Linked DNA regions of Homo sapiens: regions 2 and 3 are each linked to region 1. Evidence: fine-mapped expression QTL. A gene starts in region 1. Each other region holds a variant in brackets. All regions are shown on one strand. Distances are from middle to middle. Region 1 holds the start of PNKD (PNKD metallo-beta-lactamase domain containing). Region 2 holds the start of LOC105373880 (a long non-coding RNA gene). Region 3 overlaps PNKD (PNKD metallo-beta-lactamase domain containing).

Evidence for each region.
Region 2: its variant is fine-mapped to the expression of PNKD in whole blood (TOPMed, PIP above 0.99).
Region 3: its variant is fine-mapped to the expression of PNKD in lung (TOPMed, PIP above 0.99).

Annotation. Positions count from the first base shown.
Region 1 is chr2:218,266,639-218,273,122 of GRCh38, forward strand. PNKD (PNKD metallo-beta-lactamase domain containing) reads left to right here and starts at 3,881. Exons shown (of 10, transcript NM_015488.5): 1 at 3,881-3,964; 2 at 4,743-4,911. The coding sequence starts at 3,898. It overlaps AAMP (angio associated migratory cell protein), which reads right to left and starts at 3,499. Exons shown (of 11, transcript NM_001087.5): 1 at 3,328-3,499; 2 at 2,744-2,896; 3 at 856-975; 4 at 209-348. The coding sequence starts at 3,448. RefSeq lists enhancers at 1,792-2,677, 3,246-3,565, 3,716-4,095, 4,126-4,175.
Region 2 is chr2:218,313,906-218,320,389 of GRCh38, forward strand. All of the region lies in intron 2 of PNKD (PNKD metallo-beta-lactamase domain containing), which reads left to right. The region is part of intron 1 of LOC105373881 (a long non-coding RNA gene); the gene reads right to left. LOC105373880 (a long non-coding RNA gene) reads left to right here and starts at 2,845. Exons shown (of 2, transcript XR_923909.3): 1 at 2,845-2,978; 2 at 4,050-6,312. The variant C/T (reference allele first, on the strand shown) is at 2,855.
Region 3 is chr2:218,322,380-218,328,863 of GRCh38, forward strand. All of the region lies in intron 2 of PNKD (PNKD metallo-beta-lactamase domain containing), which reads left to right. CATIP-AS2 (CATIP antisense RNA 2) reads right to left here. Exons shown (of 4, transcript NR_125777.1): 3 at 5,425-5,580; 4 at 3,862-4,768. It overlaps LOC124906179 (small nucleolar RNA U13), which reads left to right and starts at 6,201; the gene lies at 6,201-6,301. RefSeq lists a silencer at 497-1,016 and enhancers at 499-1,094, 4,130-4,874. The variant C/T (reference allele first, on the strand shown) is at 3,488.

The DNA.
Region 1 (6,484 bases):
GAAGCCTGCCCCATGAGCTCCACCCAAGGTTTCCTGCCTCTGGGGTTCCGCGGGGACTTTCCAGGTAGCAGGTAGATATTCTTCCTGTGCCTTGGGGCGCATTGGCTCAGAGCTGGCTTGGCGCAATAAAGGCAGAACTGGCCTCCCAAGCTTGCACCCCCAACAACCCAAGGCCCCACAGAGCTGACTCCCGCTCTGATGATCTTACCTCCAGGTCTCCCGCTTCAAAGGACCAGACCTCCTCCTTAGTGTCCACCTGCCACACTTTCAAGAGGCCACTCATGTCCCCTGTGGCCACTAGAGTGGAGTCATGGCTGAAACCAGCACAAGTCACAGAGTCTTTATGGCCTTCAAAGAAAAGTGGGCAGAAAACAGAGGAAAAAAATAGGGTACCTGGTGCTGGGGGCATGTGATTCTGGTATCTGGCCCACTGAAAGGACCAGCTAGGAAAAAAAGAGGGGCGGGACTGAGCAGAACAGGTGCTGGAACTCACCACCACTCTAGGAACCAATACTCCCATGTCTGCTGGGAGACACTGCTGGCCCTCACTCAACCAGACCAAGTCCCAGCCTCCTATGCCTTCCCCCTTCTGTCCACTCTACACCTCTGCCCGCCTGCTCCTATACCAATGTGGCCTTCTCTGGCCTTTCCTGGATTCCCTTGGCCAATTAGTGCCTCCTGCCTCTGTGCCCAAAACACACTAGTATTCGCCCCGTGTCCCTGGGGCCCAGCACAGAGCTGGCACAAAAGAGATGTCACTAAGTGGCTGTTGGATGCACAACCTCTGCAGGTCAGCCTCCTAAGATCTCCCAAAAGAATATGACCTCTCCCAGGCCTCTACCCCAGCCCCCTCACCTGCACACTCAAAGAGCAGCTCCCCATCGCTGAGCCGCCATACGAAGGCTTTGTCATCTTCACCCCCGGTCACTGCCAAGGTATTGGTCTTGGGGTCCAGGCTCACACAAAACACAGATGCTGTCCCAAGAGATATTCCATGGGTAAGGGGACAGAGCTCCCACCTAGGGCTCTGTCCTTCACAATCTTCAGGAAACCCACCCCCTTTCACCCAAAGCGTGTCTTTCCTCCTGGAAAACACAGGTACATCCAAGTTCTTCTAAGTTTCAAGAATTGGGTTGTTAGATCCTTCCCATATTTGCCAAGCTCCCTATTTGCCAGAGTAGATCCCCTCACTGTGTGACTCCCGTCACCACCCAACACCAATGCCATGGACAAGAGGTGGGGACAGGTGCAGGGCTTACAGTTGTCAGCATGGGATGCCACCGGGGTTGGGTACAGAGCGAGGAGAGCATCACGTTAAGGGTTTTTTGTTTTTTGTTTTTTGTTTTTTGAGACAGAGTCTTGCTCTGTCGCCCAGGCTGGAGTGCAGTGGCACAATCTCAGCTCACTGCAACCTCCACCTCCCAGGTTCAAGCAATTCTCCTGCCTCAGCCCCCTGAGTAGCTGGGATTACAGGCGCCCGCCACCACAACCAGCTAATTTTTGTATTTTTAGTAGAGATGGGGTTTCATCATGTTGGTCAGGCTGGTCTCGAACTCCTAACCTTCTGATCCACCCGCCTCGGCCTCCCAAAGTGCTGGGATTACAGGCATGAGCCACCGTGCCTGGCAACAGTTTCTTACTAAGAACTAGCACTTGAGAAAGTTATATAAAATATGCTCAAAAAGATATAATTATCTCTCATTTTATTTTATTTTTTTGAGATGGAATCTTGCTCTGTCGCCCAGGCCGAAGCGCAGTGGCACAATCTCAGCTCAATGCAACCTCTGCCTCCCAGGTTCAAGTGATTCTCCTTCCTCAGCCTCCGGAGTAGCTGGGATTACAGGCACATGCCACCACACCCAGCTAATTTTTTTTTTATTTTTAGTAGAGATGAGGTTTCACCATGTCGGCCAGGCTGGTCTTGAACTCCCGACCTCAGGTGATCCACCCGCCTTGGCCTTCCAAAGTGCTGTGATTACAGGCATGAGCCACCGCACCTGGCCAATTATCTCTAATTTTATACTCACTACTTTTATTAACTTTTATCAAAGATAACTTTTTTTTTTTTTTTTTTTTTGGAGACAGACTCTCATTCTGTTGCCCAGGCTGGAGTGCAATGGCGCAGTCTTGGTCCACTGCAACCTCCGCCTCCCGGGTTCAAGCAATTCTCCTGCCTCAACCTCCCGAGGAGCTGGGACTACAGGCGCCCGCTACCACGCCCAGCTAATTTTTGTATTTTTAGTAGAGACGGGGTTTCACCATATTGGCCAGGCTGGTCTGGAACTCCCGACCTTGTGATCCGCCTGCCTGGGCCTCCTAAAGTGCTGGGATTACAGGCGTGAGCCACCATGCCCAGCCAAATTTTTGTATTTTTAGTAGAGACTGGGTTTTGCCATGTTGGCCAGGCTGGTCTCGAACTCCTGACCTCAAGTGATCCACCTGCCTCAGCCTCCTAAAGTGCTGGGATTTCAGGAGTGAGCCACCACGCCCGGCCAAAGATAACTTTTTAAAAGAAAACTAAGAGGTTAATCAAGGTTAACTGGCAAAGTAGAGGGTGTCTCGACTGATGCCAGAAGCCAAGCAATCATCCATTCTGCCACACTTTCCCACCTGTGGGCTCCTCCAGCGCAAGGCCAGCATCTTGCCCATCTCTGTGTCCCCCATAACGTTCTGTCCATGGCTGATGTTTAATGCTTACACGCCCACCTAAACTGATTTGAGGTGGATCGCCTCAAAGACCTACCTGAGTGCAATGCAAAGGTGACCTCGCTATCGTCGGGGCCCTCCATGCTGCCGACCACCCCTTCCTGGGGTTCTAGAACCCAGCCCTCTTCGTTGCCCTCTTCCTCCTCTTCTTCCTCAAAGTCCACATCTTCCATCTCCTGGGCCAGGTCATCTGCTTTGGGGAGAGGGTTAGAAGATGGGGCTCGGGAGGCGGTAAGAGGTACGGAGAGAAGCATGAGGAGGCCTGAGGCTGGGGCGGGTCATGTGGCGAGAAGGGAAGGTGGAGTCAGACACACCGGGGTCCGCGGGGGCGCGCGGGACACAGGACGGGAGGCCACGGCTGGCCAGAGACCGTGCGGTAAGGGAGGGCCAAGGGGATGATGGGAAGGGGGTGTGTGAGGGGAAGGGCCAGAGGAGGCGTCAGGGAACCCCCACCCCAGCCAGGCCTGAGAACTAAGTGTGAGGGTGGGAGTGGGGGAGGAGGGGAAGAGGGATATCGGTAGGAATGACCAGTCGGGTGTGGAGGGGAGCGGGGAAAAGCAGGAGTCAGAGGCCAGGGGTGAGCGTCTCCTGTCCCATGGCCTGAGGAGCGGCAGTTCTCACCTGGGTCCGGCGGACCGGGATCAAGTTCTACCACCTCGATAATCTCTTCATCACCATGGAAGCTTAGGGTCTCCAGTGGGGGGGTGTCAGCAGCAGCCCCGCTTTCCGATTCGGACTCCATGCGGCGCAAGCGGCGGATCCACTTCTCTGGGCCCAAACGCCTCCCAGAGTCAGCTCTGCGCGACGACGCGGAACTCGAGCCCCTCCTCCCGGCAGGAAGTAGGCGTAGGCGACTCCCCAGCAGGAAGAGCGACGGCCGTTCGGCCAATAGCTACGAAGGTTGGCTGGCCGCCTCACCAATCACAGAGCGGCATTGGAAGATGGGGCCGGGGCGTGGCGGAGAGAACCCAAACTCCGCCCCACCTGACTCCGCCCCCAACTGGAGGGAAACAAGCGAGCGCGCGCGCCTCCGGGGTCTCCTGGGAAGAGTAGTTCTCCTGGGTCCGCTCTGCGGGCTTCTGGGAGATGTAGTTTCTGGTCTGTAGGCAGGACGGAAGGAGCGGGGGAGGCCCCTTACGCAAACTACAATTCCCGGCGGGGAGCGCGGTGAAGCGGGGGTGGGATCTGAACATGGCGGCGGTGGTAGCTGCTACGGCGCTGAAGGGCCGGGGGGCGAGAAATGCCCGCGTCCTCCGGGGTAAGGAGAGGGACCCCGGGGAGGGCAGGACTGCAGAAGATCCCTTTTCTTTCACGTCCAGCCCGACGATAGCAGGAGGTCAGGGCTCTTGGTTCCTCCCCACACTTTTCTGCAAGATCTTAGAGTCTGGGGGTGCAGAGATGCTCTTTAGAGGTCACCCAGTGCATCCCCCCGCCTTCGGGTTGCTCGACACCTCCGGGGTCTTGCTGCAAGAGGGAGCTCCTAGGAAGCCTGTTGGACTCCCGCGCTCCAGGTGTTTCACACTCACCGCAGTGCAGAGGAAAGAGCCCCGGGCTTCTGGAGGTTTGAGTTCCAGCCCCGGATAATTAGCAGTTTGACCTTGGGCAAAGCAGTTTTTCTCTCAGGGCTTCAGTTTCCTCTTCCGTACAGTGCAAGGGATGGAGTAGACTATCTTTAAGGTCCCTTCCAGTGCTAACATTTGCAGTTTCAAAACCTTTTCCCGGATTTCCTTCATACGTCTTATGTGAGTCCCACTGCAGTCCTTCCCATGCTGTCGTCTGAGGAAGAACAGCGAAGCTTTTCGTCCTGGCACCAGGGTGATGAGCCCGCAGTGACGTGGAAGTGGCTTCCAAAGGTGCCACCTCGGTGGCGATTTTCCCATTTCCCTTTGGATTCTCCTTGGCACTTCTTACTTCAGACTGCAGTCACTCCCCTTCCCCAGATCTCAGCCGCTCCTCCCAAGCCCTTACTGCCCCCCACCTCCCCGCTTGCTTTCTTCTCATCTCTTCTTACTGACCTTCCTTACCTCCATCCACAGGGATTCTCGCAGGAGCCACAGCTAACAAGGCTTCTCATAACAGGACCCGGGCCCTGCAAAGCCACAGCTCCCCAGAGGGCAAGGAGGAACCTGAACCCCTATCCCCGGAGCTGGAATACATTCCCAGAAAGAGGGGCAAGAACCCCATGAAAGCTGTGGGACTGGCCTGGTGAGTTTTAACCACCCCTTTGCCCACCAACGGGGCGTGGCTTGTAGGGGAGGGCAGGACTTAGAAACTTCTCCAAGTTTCAGGTGGCGAGCTGAATCCAAAGTTGTGGGAACAGAATTGTTGGGTTCGATTGGAATCTCAGAGGGGTGGGGCAGTGGAGGTGGGAAAGTATGTGGAATTGAGAAGACAGTGGGTTTACTGTGGAGTAAGCTGAGTTGATCTGATTCAGACTTGGGTCCCTGGCCTCATCCTCCCTTTTGGGAGCTTGGAGTGAGACCCAAGTTTAAGTAAGTAGTTCGTTGAGATCATGTGAGCTTGTACTAGTTGTATAGTAGTACTCAGAAGGCGTTATGAACATTGTGATTGGGCTCTGACTCTGACCTTAATACATATTATTGACCAATATTAAAGAGAAAGGAGGAAGAAATCAACATTTTTTTCTGCATGTGAGGTGTGCCAGTACTTTGCCATGTAATGTTTTAGTGTTTGAGATAAGTATTACATCCCCATTTCACAGAGGAAGGAACTGAGACTGAGCTAGGATTCTCACCTAGTCTGTGACTCCATGCTCTTTCCCCCATACCAAAGTGCCTCCCAAGCAGTGGTTACTTAGCTTAAGAGGGGAAAACTGGGAGGGTACCTTGGCCAAGTCTCAGAGAGGGAAAGCGTCAGGGCTGCCTGGAAAATCCTGCACAGGTGCTGTTGCAGGAATGCAGGGCTCGTGCTGAGGATCAGGCTCTAGGCGGGAGGAGGAAAGAGGCAGGCAGAGACCCAGCCACACTGGGCCTTTTGTGCCATGTTTGGACTTGGCCAGGAAGTGATGGAGTTACGGGGTTTTAAGCAGGGAAGTGACAGGATCTGATTTGTGTGGGTCCCTCCAGCAGCCAGCACAGAGGATGAATAGACTATAAGAGGTATTGCAGCATTCATGCAACTGATGAAGCTAGAATGACTCCCCCCAGCTCCTCTGGCTCAGGCTTGGCCCCTCCCCAAACCCCGTGCACATCTCCCCACCCGTAGGGCCATCGGCTTCCCTTGTGGTATCCTCCTCTTCATCCTCACCAAGCGGGAAGTGGACAAGGACCGTGTGAAGCAGATGAAGGCTCGGCAGAACATGCGGTTGTCCAACACGGGCGAGTATGAGAGCCAGAGGTTCAGGGCTTCCTCCCAGAGTGCCCCGTCCCCTGATGTTGGGTCTGGGGTGCAGACCTGAGGAGCGCTGCGACCCTCCTAGGCTATTGACTGTTAAGTCCTCAGGTTTGGCCCAGATTCCAGTTCGTGCCTCTGAGGTCCACCAGAGGGCGCATGAAGCCCAGGCTGTTGCCAAACCCTACCCTGCCCCACACCAAGGAGCCAGCCAAAGGCAAATAAAGTTATTGAGTGTTTAGTAGAAAGGAACCAGGTCTGGGTTTGTGAGTCCCTTGGGATGGGAGGGGCAGAGGGTGGGGCTGGTTACTCATGTGTGCTCCCTCTCACAGAGCTCAGTGTTCCCAGCTGGATGGTGGGGCAAACCCAGAGACTTAAGTGCAACCAGCCTAGGCCCCGGGCCCTCGGGACCAAGCCCTCAGAGCTG
Region 2 (6,484 bases), 47 kb after region 1:
TTTTTTTTTTTTTTTTTTTGAGACGGAGTTTCACTCTTGTTGCTGGAGTTTCGCTCTTGAGGCTGGAGTGCAGTGGCGCAATCTCAGCTCACCACAACCTCCGCCTCCCAGGTTCAAGCGATTCTTCTACCTCAGCCTCCTGAGTTGCTGGGATTACAGGCATGTGCCACCACACCCGGCTAATTTTTTGTATTTTTAGTAGAGACAGGGTTTCTCCATGTTGGTCAGGCTGGTCTCAAACTCCCAGCCTCAGGTGATCTGCCTGCCTCTGCCTCCCAAATTGCTGGGATTACAGGCGTGAGCCACCGCGCCCTGGCTTTTTTTTTTTTTTTTTTTTTGAGACAGAGTCTCTGTCTCCCAGGCTGGAGTGCAGTGACATGATCACAGTTTACTGCAGCCTTTACCTCCCAGGCCCAAGAGATCCTCCTACCTCAGCCTCCTGAGCAGCTGGAAGCACAGGCGTGTACCACCAAGCCTGGCTGATTTTTTAAATTTTTTGTAGAGATGAGGTCTCCCTCTGTTGCCCAGGCTGGTCTGGAACTCCTGGGCTCAAGCGATCCTCCCACCTTGGCCTCCCAAAGTGCTGGGATTACTTGTACTTTGGGTGCAAGTTAGCCACCATGCCTGGCTATACTTGGATTTTCTTGATTCTTTTGAGTTTTCACATTTTTTCATATTTATTAGCCATTTATTAATTTATTAATTGAGGTCATTGTGTTTTCACATTTATTTAAGGTCTGTAATCACTCCTTGGCCTTTTGGCTAAGATCAAGTATATTTAAGTTCGTTTTTTTTTTTCTTTTTGAGAGAGTCTCACTCTGTCGCCCAGGCTGGAGTGCAATGGGGCGATCTCGGCTTACTGGAACCTCCACCTCCTGGGTTCAAGCGATTTCTTGTGCCTCAGTGCCCAAGTAGCTAGGATTACAGACGCCTGCCACCATGCCCTGCTAATTTTTGTATTTTTAGCAGAGACTTGGTTTCACCACTTTGGACAGGCTGGCCTTGAACTCCTGGCCTCAAGTGATCCACCTGCTTCAGTCTCCCGAAGTGCTGGGATGCCAGGCATGAGCCACTATGCCCGCCTGAGGTTTTCTTTCTTTCTTTCTTTTTCTTTCTTTCTTTCTTTCTTTCTTTTTCTTTCTTTCTTTCTTTCTTCCTTCCTTCCTTCCTTTCTTTCTCTCTCTCTCTCTCCTTCCTTCCTTCCTTCCTTCCTTCCTTTCTTTCTTTCTTTCTTTCTTTCTTCTTTCTTTCTTTTTTGAGACAGTCTTGCTGTGTCACCAGGCTGGAGTGCAGTGGCGTGATCTCAGCTCACTGTGACCTCTGCCTCCCAGGTTCAAGCTATTCTCCTGCCCCAGCCTCCCAAGTAGCTGGGACTACAGGCACGCGCCACCACGCCCAGCTAATTTTTGTATTTTTAGTAGAGACGGGGTTTCACCATGTTGGCCAGGATGGTCTCAATCTCTTTGACCTCGTCATCCACCCACCTCGGCCTCCACCCGCCTCGGCCTCCCAAAGTGCTGGGATTCCAGGCATGAGCCATGGCGCCCGGCCAAGGATTTAAATTTTAAAGTAACTAAAACAGTAATTATTTCCCTTGTTAGATCTTCTGTTGCTTTTTTCTGAATAATGTATGCCTTTAAGGAATAATAGGAATAATAAATGCCTTTAAGAATAACATACGCCTATTAAGGAAAATTAGAATGACGCATTTGTTATTTTTAGCTTTAGAAAATCCTCTGCTATCCAGATTGAACATGTCTTTCATTTTCTTCTAATTTTCTGTGGTTTAATTTTATATCCTTAACCCTTTAATTCGGGTAGAATTTATTTTGGTGGATTCTGTGAGGCACGAGTCTAAATTGCTCTTTTGTAAATAGCTAGTCACTCATCCATCATGTCTTTCCAGCATCATTAATATTCTGTTTCCCTCTGTCACTGTTAACTATTATTGCAGTAATGCTGCATAAGAAGCCAGTTCAAAACTCAGAAGCCTACAATCATAAGCATGTATCTTGCTCATGCATCTGTGGGCAGGCTGAGCTTTAGCTGATCTAGCTTGGGCTCTGCTGGGCTGGGTTGACTTCCAAGCTGTGAGTGGGATCCAGGTGGCTCCATGTGCCTTTCATCTCCCTTAGACCAGCAACATCAGTGGCGTGGGAAAATATACCTCGCCTCCATTGAAGTGATGCACAGTCACAGGGTGAACGGTATGTTTACAGTGAGAGATGAATAACTGGAAACTGAAATGCCATCTACCACACCTTTGGAGACAGCCTTTCAGGAAACTAGATTGTGTTGAGATAAAGGCAGAATGGAGTCTAGAAAATGGCACAAGGTCAAGGGAAGATTTTTTTCTTTCTTTCTTTTTTTTTTTTTTTTTTTGAGACAGAGTCTCACTCTGTCACCCAGGCTGGAGTGCAGTGGCACGATCTCAGCTCACTGCAACCTCCACCTCCCAGGTTCAAGTGATTATCCTGCCTCAGCTTCCCAAGTAGCTGGGATTACAGGCACCCGCCACCATATCCAGCTAATTTTTTGTATTTTTAGTAGAGACAGGGTTTCACCTTGTTGCCCAGGCTGGTTTCGAACTCCTGAGCTCAGGCAATCCGCCTGCCTTGGCCTCCCAAAGTGCTGGGATTACAGGCGTGAGCCACTGTGCCCGGCCAGGAAGTTTTTAAGGCAGGGAGATGCTGGAATTTGCTCTTAGGCTGAGGAAAATTGCAAAATATGTAGAGGGGTAGGTAGTCACAGAAATTGTTTTCTCTAAGAAGGATATTTGTTGAAAGTAAAGGAAATGACGTTGGGGCTTGAGGTTTGGAATAACAACTGCAGATGAGATGGGGCCTCAGCAAAA[C/T]GGAACTGCCAAGCACTGGTATCAGGGACTTGGGATGGCCTGAACCATCGCAGCCCTGAGTCATATGACACAGCAGTTTTCTTCAGCCCTGCCCGTGAGGTAGGAGACTGTCAGGTTGGTTCAGGTAGGTCTGAAGGTTGGTAGGTTAAGGCTGGAGGTCAAGGGGGTCAGGGGATCAGGAAGCTAACAGGTGGTAAGTAGTTCAAGGGATTGAGCCTAAGTTCAAATATAGGTGCAAGAGGGGCTGAAGGGCTGGAAGAAAACAAACTGCCTGAGGAGCTGGAACTGGAGGTCCATGTGTACTGGGGATGGGAGGGGATCAGGGAAAAGGACATTGGAATTTAGGTTCTCAGAGGCAGAGAAGTTCCAGGTGAATCTAGGGTGTGGCCATGTGAGCAAGCTGCTGAATTATGTCGAAGGCATTGGAATTGAAGTCAGGAACTGAGGTCAAGGCAGAGTTCAGAACCACCTATGCGAAATGCACACTCTTGGGCCCCAGCCAAACCTACTAAGTTTGAATCTCTGGGGGACGGACCAGAATTCCGTATTTTTACAAGCTCCCTGAGTGGTTCCTAGGCTCCCTAACACTTGAAAACTGCTGTGCTATGATGTTGAATGAGCCATGCTTGTTGGAATTACCTGATGGCAGGAATCAGGCAGGAAGACTAAAAACAGGTGTTGAAATCCTTAGAGAGTCTGGGCTGATCAGTGTATGGGACTGATGAGGAGGGGTGGAAAGAAGTTTGTACATGAGTCAGGAAGAGCAATGGCCTTGGCCTGGACTATTGCTAGTGCATTCCTTTCCAACCTGGAGACAATGTAGGAGACTAAAGGCTTCCACTGCAGAAGGCAGGGCAGTGAGAGAGAAGGTAGGGAATAGAAGACAGGGATCATATTCAGTCCAGACAGGCTGGGAGCTCTGTGAGAAGGCAGAGGACGTTGGGGAAGGATTTGTTTCAGACCAAACCAGGGTTCTGCAGGGTACAGCAAAATGGCTCGGACAGGAGTTCATGAGAAAATGGTCCACGAGGGAAAGTGAGCTTTGGTTGGGGATAACAGATGAGGGGATGGACTGGGCTAAGCAGAGGCCAGATTATCCCAGTCACCACTTCTGCACTGGGTTCACTTTTCTAAACTGAACTAATTTCTCCACCCAGGTCTGACAAGATGTCTCTTTTCTCTAACATTTAAACAGCTCCAACCATCTCAGCTCCTTCATGATTGTTTCGTCATCATCACCATCGTCACTGTCATCATCATCATCATCACCACCAGTGATTTCCTGAATGCCAACCAAGCACCAGTCATCAAGCGTGAGCCACGGTGCAAAGATGGAGGCAGGCTCTCCATTCTAAGGGAACCTCTCAGGCCAGTAGGGAAGGCAAGATTCAGACACCAGGGACAGGCAGCCTGGGATGACAGGTGGAACAAGGAGGAGACACAAGAACCCCCACCCCAACCCAGGAACCCACATCACAGGCCAGACCTGCATGATCGCCAGGCACCCGACTCGGGTTATGAAGGTGTCTCTCCTAAGAGAGTGGCAGAGGCAAACTTTAGCCTTGGCAGTGCGCCTCAAGCTGCTCAGGGGAGAAGTCACGGCCAAAGCCCTGGAGTGCATGGGTTCTTTAGCCATGGTTCTCCTGCAGCTTCCTCTGATATTATGAAGCGCCTGCCGCCACCAGGCTTGTTCTGACTCCCTTCCATGATCCACCCTTCTGAGTGGGGTTTGGCTTCTGTACAGCTCTCCTGTGGGCACTGAGCCCACTAGTCAGAGCAAGAGGGCTCCAGTCTCTGGACAGTCACAGTGCTTGGTGGCAAAACATAAATTGTCATTCATTCATGCCTTGTTTCTGTCATTCACTCATTCATTCAGCAGATACTTAACTGAACACCTGCTCTGGGCCAGGTATTATTCACACCACTGGGAATACAGTGGTGCCAACACAGGTCCCTCCCTGACTTCATGGGGCTAACATTCCAGTGGGAGTGACAGAAAAGATCCACAAAATAACATCACATTGTGAAAAGTGCTATGAAAGTGAAGGACGTAAGCACAGTAATATTAGTAATAGAGTAGAGAGTGAGGAGGTGGTGAGCAAAGGCCTCATAGAGGGAGTAACATTTTTTCTTTAATTTGATGTATACTTTACATATAGTAAAGTGCACAAATCTTTTCTTTTTTTTTTTCTTTTTTTTTTTTTTTTTTTTTTGAGACAGAGTCTTGCTCTGTCGCCCAGGCTGGAGTGCAATGGTATGATCTCGGTTCACTGTAACCTCCGCCTCCTGGGTTCAAGTGACTCTCCTGCCTCAGCCTCCCGAGTAGCTGAGACAAGAGGCTTGTGCCACCATACCCGGCTAACTTTTGTATTTTTAGTAGAGACGGGGTTTCACTATGTTGGCCAGGCTGGTCTCGAACTCCTGACCTTGTGATCCGCCCTCATCAGCCTCCCAAAGTGTTGGGATTACAGGCGTGAACCACTGCACCTGGCCATGCACAAATCTTTAATGTACAACTTGGTGAGTTTTTCAATTTGCGTATGTCAGACTCTCAACCTCTGTACTGCAGACATTGGGGCCATTTGTCCTGGGGACTGTCTTTCTTGTTTGTCTTTTTTTTTTTTTTTTTTTTTTGAGATGGAGTATTGCTTTATCGCCCAGGCTGGAGTGCCCTGGCATGATCTCGGCTCACTGCAACCTCCGCCTCTTAGGTTCAAGCAGTTCTCCTGCCTCAGCCTCCTGAGTAGCTGGGATTACAGGCACACACCACCATACCTGGCTGATTTTTGTATCTTTAGTAGAGACAGGGTTTCACTGTATTGGTCAGGCTGGTCTCAAACTCCTGACCTCGTGATCTGCCCACCTCAGCCTCCCAAAGTACTGGGATTACAGGCGTGAGCCATCGCGCTCGGCCCCGTCTTGTGTATTATAGGATGTTTAGCAGCATACCTGGCCTCTACCCACTAAATGTCAGTAACATTCCTCCCCACACAGTTGTGACCATCAAAAATGTCCCCAGACATTGCCATATATCTTCTGGGAGGCGAAATCGCCACTGTTGAAAGCCACTGGCATATGCCATGTAGCCAGCACTCAGCTCAAGATACAGGTTATTTCCACATGGAGGGGTTGGCGTTTGAGCTGACACCCAACAGCTAAGAAGCTGCCTCCAATTCAGAGAACTGGGGAAGGAATGTTCCAAGGGGAGAGAGCATAGGCAAAGGCCCTGAGGTGGGAATGAGCGTGGCACATTTGAGGAAGTGTGGCTGGTCCGTGGTGACAAGGGAAAGGCATCTGAGGAGGTTGAAGAGACAGGCTGGGCCCTATTGAGCAGGGGCTTTGTGGGATACGGTTAGGAGTCTGACATTTCAAAGAACGTTTGTGAGTATGTAATATGTACCTGGCACTATGCCAGACACTGGAGAGTTGAAGATGAATAAATTAAATCCTTGGCCCTACTCTTTTTTGCTTTTATTACTATTTTTAATTGACACACAATAATTGTACATATTTATGGGGCACAGTGTGATAGTTTGATACATGTATACAAGGCGTAATGATCAAATCAAGGTAATTAGCATATCCATCACCTCAAACATTGATCATTTCTTTGTGCTGGGAACATTCAAA
Region 3 (6,484 bases), 56 kb after region 1:
AACTTCTAGAATCCATCAGGAGGGCAGCAGTGAGGGAGCTGGGAACGGTGATGTGGAAATCGCCCTGGGTTTGGGAGTGGGAATGCCCCAGCCCTAGGCCCCTCTGTGCCACCCATGGCTACATATCCTAGGTCATGTTGCTCCTCCAGAGCTTGTGTGGCCTCTTCCTATCCTTCAGGGCAGGACTTATGTCGTCCGCTGGGGAGGCCCTCCCCCATCTAAGTTGGCCCTCTCTGTGCTCCATATCATTGCCCCCTCCTTGACTTCCTTTCGCAATTTATCACGCGCATATGTATGTGTATGCATAAACAGATATAATTTTGTTTGCTCGCTTATTTGGTTCGTCGCCTCACTAGATTCCGGACTGTGGGCTCCAGGAATGCAGACAGTGTGCCTTTGACCCTTGCATCCTCCTCAGAGCCTGGCAGAGTGCCAAGTACATAGGAGGAGCTAGAAAAGTAATTCGGCGAATGAATAAATCCATGAATGGCAGCTGACCCCGATGATCTCTCAGGTTTCTGCCAGTTGAGAAAGTGTAGCAGTGCCCTGGACGGGGAGGCGGGCGGGGCGAACTGCGAGCTCCTGCCCCTTCCCAGGGCTCAGGCGACTGTGGACCCCGATCAGCGCAGGCTCGCGGCCCGCTGTGGCCCCGCCTCCTGGCCGCCAGCCGGGCGGAGCCAGGCCGCCCCCCAAGCCGGGTGGCCTTCGGGGTGCTTGCCCGGCTGGAGGTGGTGAGGGGGCGGGTCCAAAGGAGAGGTCAATGGGCGGGGCGGGGCCACAACGCCCCCACGTCCAGAGCCGGCAGGCAGGTTCCCCGCGGGGGGCCGGGGCCGGGCCGTTGCCTAGCAACGCCGAGCCCCGCCCGGCCGGCGCGTGCCTGCCCCCAGCATGGCTTGGCAGGGCTGGCCCGCGGCGTGGCAGTGGGTCGCCGGCTGCTGGCTCCTCCTCGTCCTTGTCCTCGTCCTACTTGTGAGCCCCCGCGGCTGCCGAGCGCGGCGGGGCCTCCGCGGTCTGCTCATGGCGCACAGCCAGCGGCTGCTCTTCCGAATCGGGTTAGTGCCCGGGCTCCGAAGCGTGCGGGCTCGGGAGGCGGGCGCGCTGGGAGAGGGGACTGGGAGGCGGGGGCTGGAGCTGGGGGTGGGCGTGGCGGTTAGGAAGGGGCTTGGTCTAAGGGAAGAGGGATCGAGGAGACGGACTGGAGAAGCCACTGAGTTGGGGGGCCTGAGGGATTTGGGGGGCTGGACAATTGGGATAAGCTGGGGAAGGAGGATCGGAGAGGCGGGCCAGGGTGGCCACGGAAGGAGGGCGTGAGAGGACATCTGGAGCAAAGTGCCACAGAATGGGCTGGAGACCAGGAAGCTGGACAGGGGGATAGTGCAGGAGCCAGGGCTGGGAAGACCGTCCCTGTCCGGGGGTGAGGTCAGCAGATGCCCGGGCTCCGATGGCAAGTGCCGGAGAGAAGGAATGCCTCCCACCGTCTGACATTTAAAACCGCCAACTCCTTTCGTATGTCCTTGTCCCACTCCCCAGCATCCAACTCCTCACCAGTCAAGTTAGGTTCTTCTGTCCCAAGCAAGAGTCCCAACCCTGTTGGATTCCAGTATGTCCCTTTCCTTCTAACCAAAGCCTGGCCCGTGTGGAAGCCCCAGGCTGTGAAATCTGACCCAACTGACTCTGCCCACTTTTCCAGTGATTTGTCTCCGTCGACCCTCCCCCGCTCACTCTGCCCTCCTGCCTCCCTCTACCCCTTCCTTCCTGGCCCCAGGGGAGGGTGGTGCCTAGCAAGCACTGTTCAGCCCCAGGGACACTGAGAGGCAGGGAAGAAGACAGGCCTCCGAGGCCCCCTGTCCCCTTCCTACTACCAGCCTGGCCATGGGTCAGGACCTCAAGCCCCAGTTTAGGGACAGTAATGTTGGGGATGGGAATTGTGAGAGCCCTGGCCACAGGCCAGGTTGTGGGGAGAGCCTAAGCCTGGGAATTTCCCGAGCTTCCGAGCAGACATTGTGCAATTCACCCTCTCCTCCCCAGACCACCCCACACGCCCAGAAGCTTCAGGCGCAGGATTCCACTCACAGTCTAAGAAATGCAGATATAAAGGCAGGATAACTAGAAAAACATGGTGCTGGAGGGTGGGGTGGGGATCTTGTGTTTGTGCCTTTTGGGGCATTCACATCTCTAATATCCTAAACCTTGGTCGCAGTTTAGATAATGTGCCAAGTAAGTTACCATTGCTCTGCACGTTGCATTAAAATAATGAGATTGAAAAATATTTAGGCCAGGTGCGGTGGCTCACGCCTGTAATCCCAGCACTTTGGGAGGCTGAGGCAGGTGGCTCTCCTGAGGTCAGGAATTCGAGACCAGCCTGGCCAACATGGTGAAACGCCATCTCTACTAAAAATACAAAAATTAGCTGGGCACGGTGGTAAGCGCCTGTAATCCCAGCTACTCAGGAGGCTGAGGCAGGAAAATTGCTTGAAGCCGGGAGAGGGAGGTTGCAGTAAGCCGAGATCGCAGCCATTGCACTCCAGCCTGGGCGACAGAGTGAGACTCCGTCTCAAAAAACAAAAAAAAGAAAAAGAAAAAAAAATCCCAAACATGAAGGTATCTAAATAATTTTCTTTTTTTTTTTTTTTTTTTTTTTTTTTTGAGACGGAGTCTCGCTCTGTCACCCAGGCTGGAATGCAATGGCATGATCTCAGCATGGTGAAACAGGGTTTCACCGTGTTGGTCAGGCTGGTTGCAAACTCCTGACCTCATGATCTGCCCACCTCAGCCTCCCAAAGTGCTGGGATTACAGGCATGAGCCACCGCACCCGGCCTTTTTTTTTTTTTTTTTTTTTTTTGAGACGGGCTCTTGCTCTGTTCCCTAGGCTGGAGTGGTGCAGTGGCACAATCTCAGCTCACTGCAACCTCCGCCTCCCGGGTTCAAGCAATTCTCCTGCCTCAGCCTCCTGAGTAGCTGCGACTACAGGCACCTGCTACCATACCCAGCTAATTTTTGTATTTTCAGTAGAGATGGGGTTTCATCATGTTGGTCAGGCTGGTCTTCAACTCCTGACCTCATGATCTGCCCACCTTGGCCTCCCAAAGTGCTGGGATTACAGGTGGGAGCCATTGCGCCCAGCCCATATTTGGGATTTTTAATGAAAACATTTTCTCCCCACAAAATTTCTGGGAATTTTACAGCCTTATCTGGGGAAAGATTTTTAAATCTACTTCTAGCTTTCAAAATTAGTAAGTTTGAGGTCATACAAATGGCCTGAGGAAGTGGAAAATAGAAGTTTCCATAAGGAACTGGAATCAGAATTCCTGAGATCAGAATGCCAGGATCACTATCTCAGAATCTTGAGGGTGTGGGTATGCCTGGAACTTGAGACGTGGGATTTTACAAATCTCCAAAACTCTAATCATTGGAGAGCTTCTTCAAAATGCAGTATTTCTACAGGCTTTCCTGTGTCTGGATTTCAAAGTTGCTTTGGAATCCACT[C/T]CTCAAATTTGCAGAGAGAAGGGTGCGCCTGGAGTCAGAATTCCAGACCCTGCTCCTCATAGTCTGGGAAACAATCAGTCCAGTCCCCAGGGGGAGATGCTGCTGGCTGCTGGGAGGGAAAGGAGATATTTGCAGGAAACTGTAGGGGGGAAATGGGCAGGTGTTGGTGCTAGGGGTGCCTCCAGGAAGGATGGGGAGGGAGGGGGAACGGAATGGGACAGGACATGATGGGGAGGGGGAGGGCACATGCACTACCAACCTGAAGGTGTGGCTGGGAGGATCGCAAATAGAGGATTCTACTGGGGGTGGAAAGGCAATGATGGAAACACCAGGCTCACCGGGAGGAGAGCTGTTGACCATGTTATCATTAGTAATCATCATCCCTGGTGTTTGGCAATTTAATAAAAGGCTTTCCTTAACCATAACTACAATTGTCTTAGGATGAGGATAGCTGAGCACAGTGGCCACAGGTGAAACTGGTGAGACACATGCATTTGGGGCTCTGTGGGGCCTGGGAGACAGTGTGGATTGTAGCAAAGCACACAGCATGTGGGGTCGAACAAATCTGCTTTTGCATCCTAGTTTTGTTGCTTAGTAGCCATGTGACCTTGAACAAATAACTTCTCTGTGCCTTAGTTGTTTGCATCTATAAAGTGGGGTTGGGGATGCCTACCTCATAGGGCTCCTGTGAAGATCAAATGAAACCGCATCTAAAATACACAGGGCCTGGCTCAAAAAGAGTGTTCAGGAAATGTTAGCAGGTGTTCCTGATGTGGCCTGGAGTTGGGTGGGAGAGTATCTATGGCCCTGTGTCCTTCTGGAGCTTCCTTACTTAATTCCACCCCTGTCTTCCAAGCCTGTCCTACCCACCACCCAGCAGGAAACTCCACATCCCTTCATTCAGCCAGGGAACACCTAGCTGCCCTAGGTAAGGACTGTGGGGTCCCAGATATGAACAGGTTCTGATCGCTGTTCTGCAGGGAAGGGGAAAGCACAGGTGAACAGATATAAACAAGGGCCCAAACCCGGGAGGAGGCAGGCCGTGGCAAGCTCCCCAGAAGCAGCACAATATGCCTGGGGAGTCAGATCAGGAATGTGGGACTCCCCCGTGCGTGCCCCCTGCTTCATGCCTCAGTTGCCCTTTTGCCTTCTTAGGGGTAGTGGTGGGGGTTTTGCAGAACAAAGTCTTGAGGAGAGCCTCTGTCTGCAGAGGGGAGACGAATAGGACACAGGCAGGTCTGGGAGTGTCTTGCAGAGCCGAGGAGGTGGGTAGCAGCTGGCCTGTGGAGAAAGCCAGTCCTAGTGACAGCCTTCCCTCCCTGACCAAGCCCCCTCTCCATTCCTAGGCATAGAAGGTCCTTCCTGACCCTGGCAACCCCCCCTGGGACGGACCTAGCTTGCTCTACTTCTGCAAGAGGAAAGCCGTTATCTGGGGCCAATGCGTCCCACTGGCTTGATTTCAAGAGTGGCAGAAGCCTGATGGAAGGGTCCTTGAGTGAATCCTCCCAGCCCCCCGAATGAGGCCAGGTAGATGCAGTGAGCTGGGCTATCCATGTCGCAGCCTGGCAGGAGGGGAGCAGGATCCTTTTCCTTTCTGGGGCCTGTGGGACCGTGGAGAACTGTGGCCAGAGCACCCACAGCAGCCTCATGCCTCCCTGCTGCTCTCTGCTCTCCCCACTGACACAGCTTCCCCCTGCTGCCTGGTTCGTCTTCAAAGTGTGGCTCTGATCAAGTGTCCCCTTCTGCAAGCCACATTGCCGACAGTATGGAGCCACGCCCCTCGCCCAGGCCTTTGCAGCCTTCCCACACCCCCTACAGACCTGCCCAGTTTCATCTCCCCCAGGCCTGAGCTGTTCCTGCACTTCTGTCTGACCTGTCCTGCCTTCCTTCCTCCCTACATCTCTACTGTCAAATTCTGTTGCATCTTCAAAGCTCACCTTCAAAGGTACCCAGAATGTGAACACTTCTCCCTGCCTCCACTGCCACCACTCTGGGCCAGCCAGGAGAATCGCTTGAACCCAGGAGGCAGAGGTTGCAGTGAGCCAAGATTGCGCTATTGCACTCCAGCCTGGGTGATAAGAGTGAAACTCCATCTGAAAAAAAAAAAAAAAAAGGAAACTGTTACTTAAGTCAGGAATGGATTACTTCTCTGCTCAAACTCCTCCGGCGAGTTCCCACCTCTCTCATGAAGTCCAAGTCCATTCGAAGAGTGGCTTCAGGGCCCTCTGTGACCTGCCCATCCTTACCACATCTTTTAGCACCCTTCAGCCTGTTCCTCTGTCTCAGCCACAGCTGGTGGCCTCTCCACGGTGCTTCAGTCCTAGCTGAGAGGTCTGGGCTAATTCTGTTTCTGCCGGTCGTAATCCCAGGCCTCAAATACACCAAGACAACCCTACCATCAGGCCTTTCTGTGGCTCCACATGGCTTGCTGCCTCACTTCCTTCAGGTCTCTGCTCAAATTTTGCCTTATTTGAGAGCCCTGCCCTGACCACCTCACATAAAAATAGCACCACCCTCACCCCTGCACCCTGTCCCCTCTCTGGCTTTATGTTCACCCTAGTTCACATCACCATGGGACACACTAAATGTTGATTGTTTTTCTCCCCCAACCAGAATATGGCTACACAGGGGGAGAAACTTTGTTCAAGACTGTATCCCAGATTCCAGAACAGTGCCTGGCACCTAGGTGGCCCTTACTAAATGCCTCTGAATGATCCTTTTGTAATTCCTAAGTATGACTGGGTTTTCACACACATAGGTAAGATGCACCTCCCTCAAACCTTGTGATGATGTCAGCACGGTATCCGTCTGATGTGAAAGAAAAAAAGTTTCTGAATGAATGCATGCGTGCATGAATAAATGAATGAAAAGCTTGGCTCAGGTGCCCTTTTCTCCATGAAGCCTGCCCGGCCTCCTCAGTCAAAATGAACCTCTGTCTCCAGACCGCCCCCAGCACTGTCTTCCCTCTTCGAGCTTCCCGTGCGCATTCTTGCTTGT